4 linked regions of the Homo sapiens genome follow. The protein of the gene in region 4 purifies or fractionates together with the protein of the main gene of each other region. This does not show direct contact. Each region holds a gene or a part of one and is shown on either strand. Other genes may lie near its edges.

Region 1 (3,747 bases), on a different chromosome or scaffold from region 4:
AACCTCAATAAGTAAGCTGAACAAAGATTTCCAATTGGCTATTTACATACATAAGAATTAAGACACTTACCAAACAATTCAATGTAAACTTCCTGAAGTGTGTGGGCACTGCAGAACTGGTTCAGCTCATGGTGGATTTTATTGAAGATTAAGGTCTTGTCATAATCTGCAGTATAGTTCCTCACGATATCAAACACTGAAGGAGAGGTACAACCCATGTTTGTTTTACCCAACAATGACACAGGTACCTTCAAATTCAGCCAGGGTAAAAGTCAGGGTGATATATTACACATGAGGAAAAGTGCCAACAAAATAGTGAAACCAAAAACCACAACTAACAAATCTTGATGTGTTGCTTGTGCTCAATTTTCCAAATACCCTTGCATTTGTAATACTAATGCCAAACACCTGCTGGTTAGCCCATCAAACAGGGGCTAACTTTAAAGTCCACACTAAAGTATCCATTATTTTGGAGGTAATAAGGAACTATCAAAGGTTTCAAGCAAGGGCATGACAGTCAGATTTACGCTTTGGCCAGCAGTGTGAAGATGAACTGAGAAGCATAAAGATCAGAGGCAGGGAAAGCATAAGGCAATTACTGCAAAAGTTTAGCTAAGAGGTAAAGAGAGACTAGGCAAACTGAGGAACAGTAGAAATAAAAGAAGAAAGCAGTTGCAAAAGACCGTTTTTAAAAAGGCAATTTTTTAAAGTTGTTAAAACATTAACTGAGCTGGGCTTTATATCAGGTAATTTACATAAATTAGCACTGAATTCTCCTAAATTTGCATATTAGGAAACTAAGAAACAGAGAATTTTAGAAATGCCCAAAAGGTACATACTAGACCACGTCAGAACCTGTTCTTTATCTACAAAAACATGCTGCTTTCTACTTCTGTCTTCAGATCCAAGAATTTGCTCCACTGGCCTTCCCATGTGGGATATTAGATGCAACTGGATTTCAAATCCGACTGGGCGCGGTGGCTCATGCCTGTAATCCCAGCACTTTGGGAGGCTGAGGTGGGTGGATCATTTGAGTCAGGAGTTCAAGACCAGCCTGGCCAACATGGTGAAACACTGTCTCTACTAAAAATACAAAAATTAGCCTGGTGTGGAGGCATACACCTGTAGTCCCAGCTACTAGGGAGGCTGAGGCAGGAGAATTGCATGAACCCAAAAGGCAGAGGTTGCACTGAGCTGAGATCATGCCACTGCACTCCAGCCTGGGTGACAGAACAAGACTCCATCTCAAAAAAGAAAAAAAATTAATGGACAGGCCATTAATAAATACTTAATGACTAAATCATTTGCTTGATCATTTCCCAAATGAATTATATCTAAATAGTTTCCTATTTAATCTCTGGTTAAAGAATCATCAGTCCCTTCCCTTTTTCAATCATAATCCATTCCAGTGATTTGTAATCAAGGAAAGGAGAGGAAAAAAAGACAAGGAAAATGCTTACTCTCTGAAAAATATAATCCAAATGCCCTTGACAGTAATACGCCTGCTCTCTACTCTGAAATCTTTTCACTATTTGTGCCTGTACCGGTTATGTGAAATTTATTATGACCTTACATCCCAATATATCCTTTTTTAGCTCTGTATTATGTCTTCTCAAGTAAAATTAAAACCCCTGAAGGCAAAGGCTGTAATTTCATCTTTTCAAATTATTCTTGCCAAACACAATATTCTGTACATACTAGACATGCCAGTTTTATTAACAAGCATGCATATAAGACGGTATATCTTTCTTCAGGGCTTCTAATTAAGTTTTTGATTACAACAGTACCTACCCACCCCATACCTGTAGGTTTTCATCTTTTATCAAGAAAATGCTTTCCCCACGTTGAAGGCTTTCAGACTGCTTTGCAAATTATAGCAAATCTCAACTAGAAAATACTTCTCTTTGATGGCAAATCAGTGTGGGCCAAGGAATTGATCAGTTACAGATTTCTAACACCCAAGGAAATTATCTCTCATCCTGACTGGATAAAATACTACTTTCCTATTCTAGAAATAACCAATGACCATTTTGCTCTTAGAAACACTAAGCTCAGAGAAGAGTAACTCATACAGTTGCAGAAAGTCAACTCTGTCCAGAACTTCTGACCTATTTTTGCCTCTATTCCCCAGAAATTTATTAATCAGTGATCAATGAAGTCATAAAACTTTCAAAGTACCCTTCTATTCCTCAAAGAATCTCTCAGCTATAAATCCTCTGGCTATAACTATAAAAACCACAGGTAGATGGGTAACATACCTGCATAAGGAGCCAACATATTAACCACTTCTATTCGGTCAATATAGATCATGACCCCACCACTAAAAACAAAGAAAAAAAGTGTGAACTACTAAAGGCAATCCATAAAACACAGTTATAGATAGACCTGGGGAGAAGCTGATAATGAAACATACTAATATTCACTTAAAACACAGAAAGAGTTCGCTTCCTTTTTCATAGCATTTCTGTCCCTCTATAGATGTCAATGTCTTTTTTACACTTGTAATAGTCATTTAAAATAAGTAATTTAAAAAATACCTTGAACTTCACATTCTTCTTTTGATACAATTCAATGCAGTGATTATACCCTAGAAATAATTTGGGCCCTGCTTGCCTTTCTTTCCCTAAACCTCTTTAGGACAGCAATTCTCAAAGTGAGGTCTTCAGACCAGCAGTATCAGCATCACCCAGGAACTTTTGTTAGAAATGCAAATTCTCGGGCCTCACCCCAGACCTATTGAATCAGAAACTCTAAATTAGATGGCATTTAACACTACAGATGAGAAGACGGTGGGATGATTAATTTTAAACTATGTTTTATTAAGCACCTATTCTGGGCCAAGTTCTGGTTAGGCACTTCATATACAGTAATTCTAATCCTTACAACAACTCTGCAAGGTAGATTTTACTGCCTTTATAAAGGAGGAAACTAAGCTTTAAAGTGTCAATAAAGGAATGTGTTGGGGAAAGAGGTATATAAAAACTGTCTGTACTTTTTGGTCAATTTCACTATGAACCTAAAACTGCTGTAAAAAATAAAGTCTTTAAAAAATAGTCAATAAAGCAGATGCAGCAGTGCTAATACACAGTTAGGTCTACTTGCTCTAAAACTCCAGTTTTTTCCAATAATACCATAAGAACAATAATGGTTCTTAAGATGGAAAAGCTCCTATTTGGAGATAGGCCTTTGCTCAAACAATGCTCAGATCAGAAGTCCCCTTGGGTTAACTATCATGCCTATTTGAGATATGTCTAAGTGATCATAGCTGTAGGAACAGAAACTCTGTCTGAGCTAAAGGGAGGCTCGTAGGCAAAGAGAAAGCTTACCTTGTTCCACAAGGCACATTTTTAACTTCATCAGTTTGTAGTGTTGTCTAGGGAGGAAAAGATATCTCATCAACACTCAAGACACACATTGTCAAAAAACTACTGGTACCAGAGGCAAATCTCTGGAAAGCTGCTGACAGTAAGTACAGCAGAGATCCATCACAATTTCAGTTCCCAAAGATTAGCTCTCAGAACAGTCATTTCTTTTTGTATTCTAGTAGAAATGAAAGACTTGAGACAGAAAATATTTTACAGCAATTTTTTTTTTTTTTTGGAGACAGAGTCTTGCTTTGTCACCCAGGCTGGAATGCAGTGGTGCAATCTTGGCTCACTGCAACCTCTGCCTCCTGGGTTCAGGCGGTTCTTGTGCCCCAGCCTCCCAAGTAGCTGGGATTACAGGTATGCACCACTACGCTCAGCT
Region 2 (3,747 bases), on a different chromosome or scaffold from region 4:
GCTGCCGCACCATGGGGAGAGCTACCCCAATATGAAGACTACACACTCAACGGTACAGTGAGGGGAAGGAGAGAGAGTTCCTAGGACATTGTCAGAGGCTCCAAGCCCCATCCAGGCATGCCACAAGCCAGACCCATCCTGGGGCTTTTCCTTTTTGTGAATTATCTTTATTTCTGTGGCTAAGCCACTAGATTGTTTTTTCTGCCACTTGCACTGGAAGCATCCTGGCTGATACTACAAGAGCCCCTGAGCCCCAGCCCTGGCTGGGCCCCGCCCTCAGCAGGAGTGGGCTGCACTCACGTCAGGCTTGAACGGCGGCTCCAGCATGCCAGCTCCCAGCCGCTTGAAGTTCAGCTTCTTAAAGAGGGGGTGCTCCTTCACCTCGCGGGCACTGCCCCCACGACACCCCAGGCGTTCGGCAGGGTCCTTGCAGAGGAGCTGTGGCAGGGGTGAGTCGGCCAGGCAGGCCAGGCAGGTGAGTGGGTGGGAGGGAGGGAAAGGTGCATCCACCCCAGCCCTGGCTGGCCAGGCTTCTGTGAGCTGCCGTACCTGTGAGCAAAGTGAGCGGGCCTGCGGGGAAAAGCGCTCGGAATACTCCTCGGGGACCTCCTTCACCAGCCGCTCCACCTCCTCCCGCTTGATCTTCTTCTTCCTCTGCTGGAAGGGCGACTGGCCTGCGATCATCTCGTACAGGAGGCAGCCGAGCGCCCACCAGTCAGGGCTGAACGTGTACCGTTCATTCTTCACCACCTCCGGAGCTGGGCGGGCGGCATGGGAGTTAGGGCTGGGCAGGAGGCGGGCAGTGGACCCTCAGGCCCCAGGAACGCCAGTGCACGTTAGGTCTGGGATACACTCACACCCGCTGGCCAGGGGGGACCTTGGCCAGTAGGAGAGCACAGGCCCCATCAAGCGGGGTGAATACGGCCCTGCAGGAGGCCGCGCCCAGGGTCCCCGGGTCTTCAGATTTTACACAAGAAGTCAGAAATCTGTATTTTGTATGTGAAACCATCTGGCTTACTAAAAACAGTTTGACTTAAACACAAATGTAGGCCAAATTGGGCCCATGTGGCTACCATTTTGCAACTTCTGGATTTAATATCAGCGAGAAGAAGGAAACTCCTATTTTCTGAATACCTCCTACCTGCCAGGGCAGCCCTGTGGGGAGTTTTCCCTGAACTCTCCCTTTTCATCTTCCAGGCAGCCCTGGGAGGCAGGTATGATGAGTGTTTTCCAGTGGAGCAGAGTGAGGCCGGGAGCAGCGGAGTGTCTGGTTCAAGGCCACGCAACCGGCAAGAGGCGGAGCCTGCAGAGCCAGGACTCTGCCTCCTGCGTCTCTCGGTCTCCAGGTGGAATGTGGGGCCTCATGTTGGCCCCTCCACTGGCCTCCCTCACAGATGGGCACAGGGAGGGCAGGGACTGGGGCCACGGAAACAGGTTTGGGTCTCTCTCCTCCATCCCCCGGTAGCCACCTGCAGGCTCAGCCATAGCAGGGTTTAATAAGTATTCAGCAAATGAACGACATGGCTTCACAACTGTGTGCGGCCCCGGCTGAGTCTTGGTCTCCTAACCTCTAGAAGAGGAGCATCGGCATGGGCCCTTTCTACTGAGGCCCCTTTTGAGAGAAGACTCCCAGACAGAAGTGGGTGTGGCTGGGTGGGTGGATAGTGAGGGAACCCAGGAGGCTAGTGGGCCGGGCAGAGAAGACTCACCCATGTAACCCACGGTGCCCACACGCCCTTTGATGGTCTGGCCCTCGGGCACATGCACAGCTAGTCCCAGGTCAGAGATGCGGATGTGGCCTGAGTGTGGGTGGAGAAACAGGTGGACCCGTTAACAGGCCAGGCCTCTGCATCTCACCCCACCCTGACCCACCCCAGGCACCCTTACACACCGTGGTCATCCAGCAAGATGTTCTCGGGCTTCAGGTCCCTGTGCAGAGAGAAGAGCAGGGTCAGATGCTGCTCAGTTTGCCAGGGAGTCAGAAGGGGCCAGCCCCCCCAGCTCACTCGCCTCCGGGGGCCAGGTGTGGAGCAAGGTGCGAGACTCATTTGCTGCCAGGGCGACAGACAGCCCTGCTCTCCCTGGCAACAGCCCGGACTCAAGGGAGCAGAGGAAGGATCTAGAGCCAGGACTCCCAGGACTCTCTAGATGAGTGGAAGACAGCTCCACCCCGGAGGGGCCTCCCCAGTGGAGACCAAGGAGTCTCCACCCCTTGGTGACTGACTCTGCCTTTCCTCTCTATCAAATGGGACTACTCATCCGTCCCCTGACTAGGCTGTTGTGAGGTTCACAGGAAGTCGGCAACAATCAGAGCCAGGGTTCTCTCTTACCCAGCCCCATGTGCCAGGCACTCTGTACTTAGCTCACTGGGCCCCTCCAGTAGGAAGTTGGGCCTACTTCTAACAACCTGGGAAGTAGGAATTATAGTCTCTGCTTCCTAGAAAAGGAAGCAGTGTTGGGAGCAGGGAGCTCCTGGCCCAAGGTCACACGGTGGGGGGTGGAGGGGTGACAAAGTCAGGATACCCCGTGGGTCCAGCAGAGCCCAAAGCCTAGGTCTGGGCTACTCAGGTTGGCCTGGCGTGTGAGTTAAGCCGGTGCCACAGCCCCCAAACCAATGTCCTTCTGTAGTCTGGCCTGATCGGCAGCCTTGGCCACCCCCGTCCAGGCCCAGCTGCAGTCGCTGGCAGGGAAGGACTAAGCCCCTGGGGTGGCCGAGCCCTCCCCACCTGTACACGATGCGCTCCCGGTGCAGGTCCTCCAGGCCACAGCAGATCTCGGCGGCGTAGAAGACGGCCCGCGCTTCGGGGAAGCCAGCCTGGCCCATGTGGTAGATGTGGAACTTGAGGTCGCCCCCGTTCATCAGTGTCAGCACCAGGCACAGCGCGTCCTTGGTCTCATAGGCGTAGGCCAAGCTCACCTGTGGCCGAGGGGACCCGAGCCCTCAGGCAGGAGCTGCGGGGCGCTTGGCGGCAGGGCTGCCCAAAAAAGCCTTCTCGGTGCCACTCCTTGGGCCCAGCCTGCTCCCCAAGCCTGGTGTCAACACCCCAAACCCGCCCTTCCTGGCATCCCACATGGGAGGGTGGGGCCTGGGGGGTGGGGACGGTCGGTGCGCCAGTGTGGCCAAGGGGAAGGGAGAGTCTCCTTCTGTACTTACTACAAACCTACTGTTCACTTTCTCCAGGATCTGCTTCTCGTTCAGCGCCATGGCCTCCCCTTTCCGCTTCTTGATCCGCTTTTTCTCTAGCTTCTTGCAGGCATACATCTTACCTGTGGCCCGCACCTGGCAGGCGCACACCTGTGGCCAGACAGACAGGGGCGAATGGGGGCCAGCTGTGCCATTGCTGGGCATCCAGGGGGTGGTCCAGGTCCCAACACACCCACCCTATTCACTCTCCCAGGGGCTCTGGCCTGGCCACTCACCTCCCCAAAGCCACCTTTGCCCAGGACTCGGTATTGCCTGAAGGTGTTTTTGGTCACTGGCTGCCTGTGGCAAGGGGTGGGGAAGCAAACGCTGGCTGAGCAGGAGAGCCCAAGGCCTATGAAGAACCCCGGCGACCTGGCCTGTCCCGGCCCAGCCTTCAGGGAGCTCACCTTTCCAGCCACTTCCACTGCAGGAAACGGTTGAAGTAGATGCTGTCGAGGTAGTCGGCAAAAGGGGCCACGCTCAGGTACTCGTGGGTCAGCCTGTTGAGGAAAGGCAGGCCCAGCTCACCCGCCAGCCCCTGACACCTCAGGCTCTTGGCTTGC
Region 3 (3,641 bases), on a different chromosome or scaffold from region 4:
ACCTCGCGCCCTGTCCCTCCACCTCCCACTCCAGATCCGGGTGGTGAAAGCGTTCCGTAGCTCGCTCTATGAAGGCCTGGAGAAACCAGAATCCAAGACCTCCATTCACAACTTCATGGCCACGCCCGAGTTTCTGATCAATGACTACACCCACAACATCCCGCTCATTGACGACACGGACGTGGACGAGAACGAGGAGCGCCTCCGGGCCCCCCCGCCCCCGTCCCCCAACCAGAACAACAACGCCATAGACAGCGGCATCTACCTGACCACGCATGTCACCAAGTCAGCTACCTCTTCAGTGTTTTCCTCCAGTCCCGGGAGCCCGCTCCACAGCGTGGAGACGTCCCTCTAACAAGAACTTGTCTCAGCACATGCGCACACGCACACTCGGACTCACACGAAGTCACACGCACACATGCACGCACACACACATATGGGGACCTGCACACCTGCAAAACGAGGGAACAACTAAGGTGGCTGAAGACCTTTCTGGCAGGGCATTTGCAAGGACCCAAATCCATTCAACAAGGGTGCAGCCTGCCACAGGCTCCTCATCCGGACTGAGGAAGACGAGGACAGGGAGGAGGAAAAGGAGGAAGAGGAGGACAAAAAGGGGGAGGAGAAGGTTCTTCGTCCAAAGGAGGAAGGAGAAGAAGTAGAAAGTGCGAAGAGCTGAGTTCCCCACCTTTTTTTCTATTGATGCTTCTTTTTTAACAAACTACAGTTTTACCGTGTGTTTGCCATTTGAGCTGTGTGGTGGGCAGGGGGCTGGTTTGGGTTTATGGGGAGCTTTTGTTGCACCCATGCAGGGGCAATCAGATCAGCATCTTCATGCAAAAAAAAAAAAAAAGTTGAGTGCTCTGCAGGCCTGTGAAGGGTGCCACCTGAGGGAGCCGCCTGCAAGCGGCCCTGCAGCCACAAAGCAACCCGCCCTCTGCAAAAACTAGGCACATCCGCAGTGCGCATGTGTGTGCGTGCATGCACATATGTGTATGTGTGTGGATCTGTACACACACACGTATATATGGCCAGATGCGTATTTCAATAAGGAACTATTTACTGGCATGATATTTGCATTCCTCTTATCAGGCATTTTCATTTGGAAATTTCATTATTGAATGTAGCAAGGTTGTAGTTGTTTTTTTTTTTTTTTCAGGGAACTAGACTGCAAGAATATCTTTCTGGTCAACCCATTTTTGTCCCTCATCACCCCGCCCCCACCTTTCGCTCCTGCCCTCTGCCCGGCCCTACTGAGATTCCCAAGGAGAAGGCCGAGAGGGGGCGCTCCAGGTCTGGAGCAGGTATAATTGGAGCATTTGCACTGAGACCCCTGCCAGAGAGGAGAAAACCCTTTCAAGGGAAATTTTAATCTAAAAGGAAAAAACCAAAATATTGATGAGAAGGAGTCCTCCAGTTAGTGAAAGGGGAGTTTCGTTTTCAGCTTTCTTTGGTTCCTACTCCAATTCCACATCCTTCATCCTGGCCATGCCCCCACCTTCAAGAGCATGAAGCACTCTTGGAGTTGTGGGTCCTGCCCAGAGTCCAGAGAGCAGCCTCAGCTGAGCACAGGTCCGAGGGGGCGGGGGCAGGGCCAAGAGTTCAAAAGAAGCCAATGGAGGGAGAGGGAGCGTCAGAAGCCCGGAGGAGCTGGTGGTGGGAGAATGACGGCAGGGACGCAGCCACAGTTCAGACCCTGTCCCCTCAGCACCTGGATGGACTCCCACTGTTTGCTTTGGCAAATGCCGAGGAGTCCTCGGTAGACCACCTTGATGTCTGCTGTGACATCAGAGGTGCCACCACCAAAGCACTCTTCCCACCCTAGTCTTTGTGTCCAGCGGCCAAGCTTAAGCCATGAAGTCATGGATTTGTGGCTCAGCACCAGGTCCTGAGGGGAGCGTATCCTGGCAGTGTGGGCACCTGGTGGCCAAGCCTCAGTTTCCCCCAAATGAGCAAAGGGGATAAAGAGGGGCCCGACTTTTGCCACCCTCCTGAGGAAGCCCCTAGGTCCACACAGTGATGCCATGGGGGACCCTTGCCTTCCACACTTGCAGGTGTCACGTTTTGCAGGGAGGTGTTTGGGCCTTGGGCTCAGCCACTGGGAGACAGTTGGGACCTGAGGGACAGAGGATCGGAATGGAAACCACCAACGTGCACTGGCACCCTCAGAAGGCTTGTCTCACCTCCACCGGCATCCACACAAAACCAAACAGGAGCAGGCGTCATCCCCACTATTCCCATGAATGCCATGTCACCCCTGAGCAGAAGCAGTCAAATCTTGGGCAAAAGAATTTCGGTTAGAAAAGAAAATCCCACTTTAAAATGCCAGCTGCAGATAACTCAAAGCCATCCCTTTTTTCTAAAGGGCACATTGAGAATGTCACCCATTTGTAAACTGTTCCCTGATGTCCTTGTTTAAACGATAATAAGAAAAAGGGCAACTCCATTTGTTGAGGGTCTTTGTGTTCTTCAATGAGAAATCAAATTTGAGACGTTGAAATTGGAGCTGCGTGCTGCTGCACTCACCGGCTTCTTCTCACTCTCTGTCGTAGACACACCGATAGGACCAATGGCCAATAGATATTAAAAGCAAACCCTCACTGCTGCTGTATAAAGTTGCCTAATGTAAATGTCTATTGTTTAGTCCCTAGGTCACCTTTGTGCTGTGCTGTGGAGTTCAGAAACGGGGTACCATGACCTGGAATCTTTTGCTCTTGTTTTTGCAGTCTTCAAGGCTGGGGGCCCTGTCTCATTGGGAAGCCCCTCTTTATAAAGCATTATATTACTTGGAATGGCTTGGTCAACTGTGTTCAGTTCATAAATATGTTTTACATTTTTATCTGCCTGTTATAAAGATGAACAAAAAAACTTAATGAGAAAGATCACAGATACGTAATAATTTAAAGTCTGTAGTTGAATTTCCTAACTTAAAGAATAGACCAAAATTTCTGTGTATAAAAAAAAATGAAAGGCTCCTTACATCCTGGTCTGGGTAACGTGTGTGATTTATTATTTGGTGAATTATTGTGCAGAACAAAACAAAGGTGCCTTCATGCCTCTTTAACAGAGCTGGAGAAGCCCCGGGCAGGAGGGGCTTTCCCCTGGGTGTGCAGCAGCCTGGCCGGATGTGTATGCAGAAGAGGAACTTATGCTGGGATGTTAGGCCCCCAGTGGGAGGGGCTCCAGCTGCTGCAGGAGCCGCGGCTGTCTTGACTTGAAAGGGCCTCTAGTACACGGCGCGGTGGCTCAGTCCTGTAATCCCAGCGCTTTGGGAAGCCGAGGCGGGAGGATCCCTTGGGCCCAGGAATTTGAGGCTCCCCGACACACATGCACGCTCCCCACTTCTTTTATTGTGGTAGAACACAGATCACATAAAATGTACCACGTTCACCATTTGTAAGTGTGCGGCCCAGGGGCAGAAGCACATTCACGGTGCTGTGCAGCCATCACCACCGTCCAGCCGCAGAACTTGTTCATCTTCCCAAACTGAAGCTCTGGCCCCGTTCAACCCCAACTCCCCACCCCCCAGCCCCTGGCACCCAATCTTCTACTTTCTGTCTCTATGGATTTGACCACTCTAGGCCCCTCATAGAAGTGGAATCCTACAGTATTTGCCCTTCTGTGACTAGCATGATGTCCTC
Region 4 (3,747 bases):
CATTCATCTCAGTGTTTTCCTCGTGTAAGAAAAATGGAAATGGTGACTTTACCCATAGACTGGGGATGGGTTGTAAGGCCCACCACTCATGACCGGGAGTGACCACCTGCATCTGTGAGTGACCATCTGCATCTGTGTCTGGCATCAACCCAACACAGACAAGCAGAAAATGCTGGGATTCCCCGTAGCAAACAGCAGTTTTCTGCTTTGCACGCTGCGGCACCGTGTTGGATTTTTTTGCGATGGGCATCAATGACTTTATAACTAAAACCTTTCAGGCGTTGTCCCCCTGGCTGCAGCAATGGGACAGCACAATGGCAGAGGCCCTGGCCCTTTCCACAGTGCTGGCAGGTCAGTGGGGGGGCCCAAGCAAGATCACGCTGGGCCTTCACGAGCCAGGGACGGCAAGAGCCCAGTGTGGGCCTCGGGGAGCCTGGAGAAGGCGGCCACACAGGAGCAGAAGGGGCCCCGAGTATGGCAGGGGCGGGAGAGAAGGGTGGGCCGGGCTGCCCATGCCGGGAGACTGCTGCCTGCATGTGGGGAGGATGGGGAAGTACAGGGCCGGGCACATCCAGGCAGGATGCTGCAGGGGTGAGGCCACTGACACAGAGGGCCCAATGCAAGGGTCAGGAGGGTGCTCTCAGCTCAAACAGGCTCGTGACCAGCATAAGGCCCAGGGGGATGACCCACGGAGGGAGGGAGATAGGGCTCGGAGGCCACCCTGGAGGGGAAGCCCAGGAAGGGGTACTGAGCTGGGGCCAAAGTCCTCCCAGCGGGCAGGAAAGAGGGGGCAGGTCCAGGGAGCAGGACCCTGTGAGCACACAGGGTCAGTGTCTGAGTGTGTCAGTGTGTGTGGTCTGAGTATGTGGTGGGAGTGTGTCAATGTGTGGGTGTCTCCATGTGTGAGCGTGTGTCCATGTGTGAACGTGTCCATGTGTAAACGTGTGGTGTGTCCATGTGTGAACGTGTGGTGTGTGTCCATGTGTGAGCATGTGTTGTGTGTCCGTGTGGTGTGTGTCCATCTGAGCGTGTAGCATGTCCATGTGTGCTGTGTCCATGTGTAAGCATGTGGTGTGTTCATGTGAGTGTGGTGTATCCATCTGTGAGTGTGTGGTGTGTCCATGTGAGTGTGTGGTGTGTCTGTGTGGTGTGTGTCCATGTGTAAGCATATGGTGCATTCATGTGAGTGTGGTGGGTGTCTGTGAACATGTGGTGTGTCCCTGTGAGTGTGTGTGTGTCCGTGTGTAGTGTGTGTCCATGGGTAAGCATGTAGTGTGTTCATGTGAGTGTGGTGGGTGTCCGTGTGTGTGGTGTGTGTCCATGTGTAAGTATGTGATGCATTCATGTGAGTGTAGTGGGTGTCCATCTGTGAGCATGTGGTGTGTGTTCGTGTGTGGTGTGTCTGTGTGGTGTATCCATCTGTGAGCGTGTGGTGTGTTCATGTGAGTGTGCATTGTGTGTCCGTGTGTGTGTGGTGCGTCCATGTGTAGTGGGTGTCCATGTGTGATATATCCATGTGTGAACATGGTGTGTGTCCGTGTGTGTGGTGTGTTCATGTGCGATATATCCATGTGTGAGTGTGGTGTGTTTGTCCATGTGTGCACGTGTGGTATGTGTTCATGAGTGTGTGGTGAGTGTCCATCTGTGCGCATGTGGTGTGTTCATGAGTGTGTGTGTGTCCATGTGTGAGCGTGTGGTGTGTGTGTGGTGTGAGTGCCTGGTGTGAGTGTAAGCTGAGGATGAACTCACACAGGTGCAAGCTCCCGCTCCTGCCTGGATGGGGTCTCAGCAGCCCGGGGCCTAGAGGGTGGGGTTGGGAGCAGGGCAAGGCTGTGAGCCCAGCAGGCTTCAGAGAGGAGCGTGGAGGGCCTGGGGGAGCAGCAAGACGGCACAGGAAGGGACGCCCGAGGTCCCAGGGAGAGGCAAGTGGGGACCCTGGTCAGCTCCAGGTGGCTGGCGGGGCCAGCAGTGGCACAGCCGCTGGGGCGCAGCAGGAAGGTGGGAGCACCCAGCGAAGCGCGGGGCTTGATCCTGGCGCCTGCCCGCCCCCGGCTTCCCACCCTTCTGGAACTCACGTGGCGATGGGCACGAGGAACTGGTAGGAGCCGCGGAACAGCACGAAGGCCGCATAGCACAGCCAGATGCTGCTCGGGTGGCGCGTGTGCGCCAGAAGGAAGACCAGCCCCGCCTGCGTGGCCGTGACGCCCGCGATGAGCAGCTTGGACCAGCGCGCCCAGCGGATCTTCACGAAGCCCGCGGCGAAGGACGTGATGGCGCCTGAGAGGGGAGGGATGGGGCGTTGCAGCGGCCCTGGGGGGCCACGGGGCAGGGGGAGGTAGCGGGAGCTTCTGAGGAAAGGTATCCACGGGGCAGGGGGCGGGGACGGGGAGCCTCCGGGGAAGGATCCACGGGGCAGGGGGAGGTGGCAGGGAGCCTCCGGGGGAAGGATCCACGGGGCAGGGGGCGGGGAGGGGGAGCCTCCGGGGGAAGGATCCACGGGGCAGGGGGCGGGGAGGGGGAGCCTCCGGGGGAAGGATCCACGGGGCAGGGGGAGGTGGCGGAGAGCCTCTGGGGGAAGGTATCCATGGGGCAGGGGGCGGGAGAGGGAGCCTCCGGGGGAAGGATCCACGGGGCAGGCGGAGGTGGACGGGAAGCCTCTGCGGGAAGAAGCCTCGGGGACCAGGGCATGCGTACCCAGCAGCGTGGAGGCAGCATCTGCCGCGCCGTTGTAGACCCGCGCACTGTTGGTGGTGGGGTCCACCTCGTTCCACAGGATGTGCACGTAGTAGACCACCAGGTAGTAGCCGGCCGAGTTGAAGACCCACCAGAGGGACCACAGGCGCAGCTGCGGCCGCCGCAGGCTGTCCCCCAGCTCCCGCAGCATCCGCGCCAGCACTGAGTCCCCACAGGCCACCCGCAGGGCGTGTCCCAGCTTCCCGCCTGGGCCAGGATTCATGCGCTCCAGCTCCGAAGCCGAGGTTTCGCACCGCCCCCGGTCGTCGCGGTTGAAGAAGAGGCTGCGCTTGGGGCGCTTCAGGAAGAGGGCGAGGACCACGCTGAAGGTGAGGAAGGCCAGCGAGATGTAGTTGAGCGTGGAGAAGGAGACTCGGCCCACAGTGACCAGCAGCTGGCCCAGCACGGAGCTGGTGAACACGCCCAGCAGCACCGCAGCGCGCGAGTAGCCGGCCACACGCTGGTAGCGCGCGGGCCGCACGAGAGAGAAGATGTAGGAGGAATAGGCGATGCGCGCGGCCATGGTGACGCTGTAGAAGAGCTCCATGAGCTGCATGTGCGCCACCGAGTGGCCCAGCAGCAGCAGCAGCCACACCGACACGAAGCTGAGCCCCTGCAGCAGCAGCACCGGCGTGTAGCGCAGGTAGTCGGTGAGCAGGAACACGGGCACCAGCACGGCCAGGTAGGAGTACGACAGCACCGGCGTGATCTCGTTCGTGACCTGCGGACAGGCGGGCGTGCGCCCCACCAGGTGTTAGCAATGCTGCCGCTGCGGCAGACACAGCCCGCCCGAGGTGATGGCTGCTGACGGCTTCCTGCCCCAACACTGCCTGGTGGGACCCCTCTCCCCAACACGCCCCTGTCCCATGTCCCACTGCATCGTCCTCTCTGAACAGGGACCTCTGGCTCCCGACCGTCCCGGCAGCCTGGGAGCGTTCGCCTGCGGAAAGCTGGCAGTGGCCACAGAAGGAATCGTTATTAACAAGCCTGTTCATCTAAGCTTCTCTATTTTTA

The links. The genes of interacting proteins can lie anywhere in the genome.
Region 1: the proteins of SLC19A1 (region 4) and ERLIN1 purify together in Homo sapiens (affinity purification with mass spectrometry; one large-scale study listed by BioGRID and IntAct). This does not show direct contact.
Region 2: the proteins of SLC19A1 (region 4) and GRK6 purify together in Homo sapiens (affinity purification with mass spectrometry; one large-scale study listed by BioGRID and IntAct). This does not show direct contact.
Region 3: the proteins of SLC19A1 (region 4) and ATP2B3 purify together in Homo sapiens (affinity purification with mass spectrometry; one large-scale study listed by BioGRID and IntAct). This does not show direct contact.

Annotation. Positions count from the first base shown.
Region 1 is NC_000010.11:100,175,875-100,179,621, forward strand, and holds part of ERLIN1 (erlin-1), read right to left. Parts: intron 3,374-3,747; coding exon 3,327-3,373; intron 2,321-3,326; coding exon 2,259-2,320; intron 197-2,258; coding exon 71-196; intron 1-70. UniProt on the Homo sapiens protein: Component of the ERLIN1/ERLIN2 complex which mediates the endoplasmic reticulum-associated degradation (ERAD) of inositol 1,4,5-trisphosphate receptors (IP3Rs).
Region 2 is NC_000005.10:177,433,084-177,436,830, reverse strand, and holds part of GRK6 (G protein-coupled receptor kinase 6), read right to left. Parts: intron 3,685-3,747; coding exon 3,592-3,684; intron 3,485-3,591; coding exon 3,421-3,484; intron 3,296-3,420; coding exon 3,155-3,295; intron 2,918-3,154; coding exon 2,727-2,917; intron 1,930-2,726; coding exon 1,892-1,929; intron 1,800-1,891; coding exon 1,710-1,799; intron 759-1,709; coding exon 550-758; intron 439-549; coding exon 301-438; intron 1-300.
Region 3 is NC_000023.11:153,579,944-153,583,584, forward strand, and holds the end of ATP2B3 (plasma membrane calcium-transporting ATPase 3), read left to right. Parts: intron 1-34; coding exon 35-355; 3' UTR 356-2,986; downstream 2,987-3,641. UniProt on the Homo sapiens protein: ATP-driven Ca(2+) ion pump involved in the maintenance of basal intracellular Ca(2+) levels at the presynaptic terminals. Uses ATP as an energy source to transport cytosolic Ca(2+) ions across the plasma membrane to the extracellular compartment.
Region 4 is NC_000021.9:45,528,695-45,532,441, forward strand, and holds part of SLC19A1 (reduced folate transporter), read right to left. Parts: intron 3,455-3,747; coding exon 2,695-3,454; intron 2,278-2,694; coding exon 2,076-2,277; intron 1-2,075. UniProt on the Homo sapiens protein: Antiporter that mediates the import of reduced folates or a subset of cyclic dinucleotides, driven by the export of organic anions.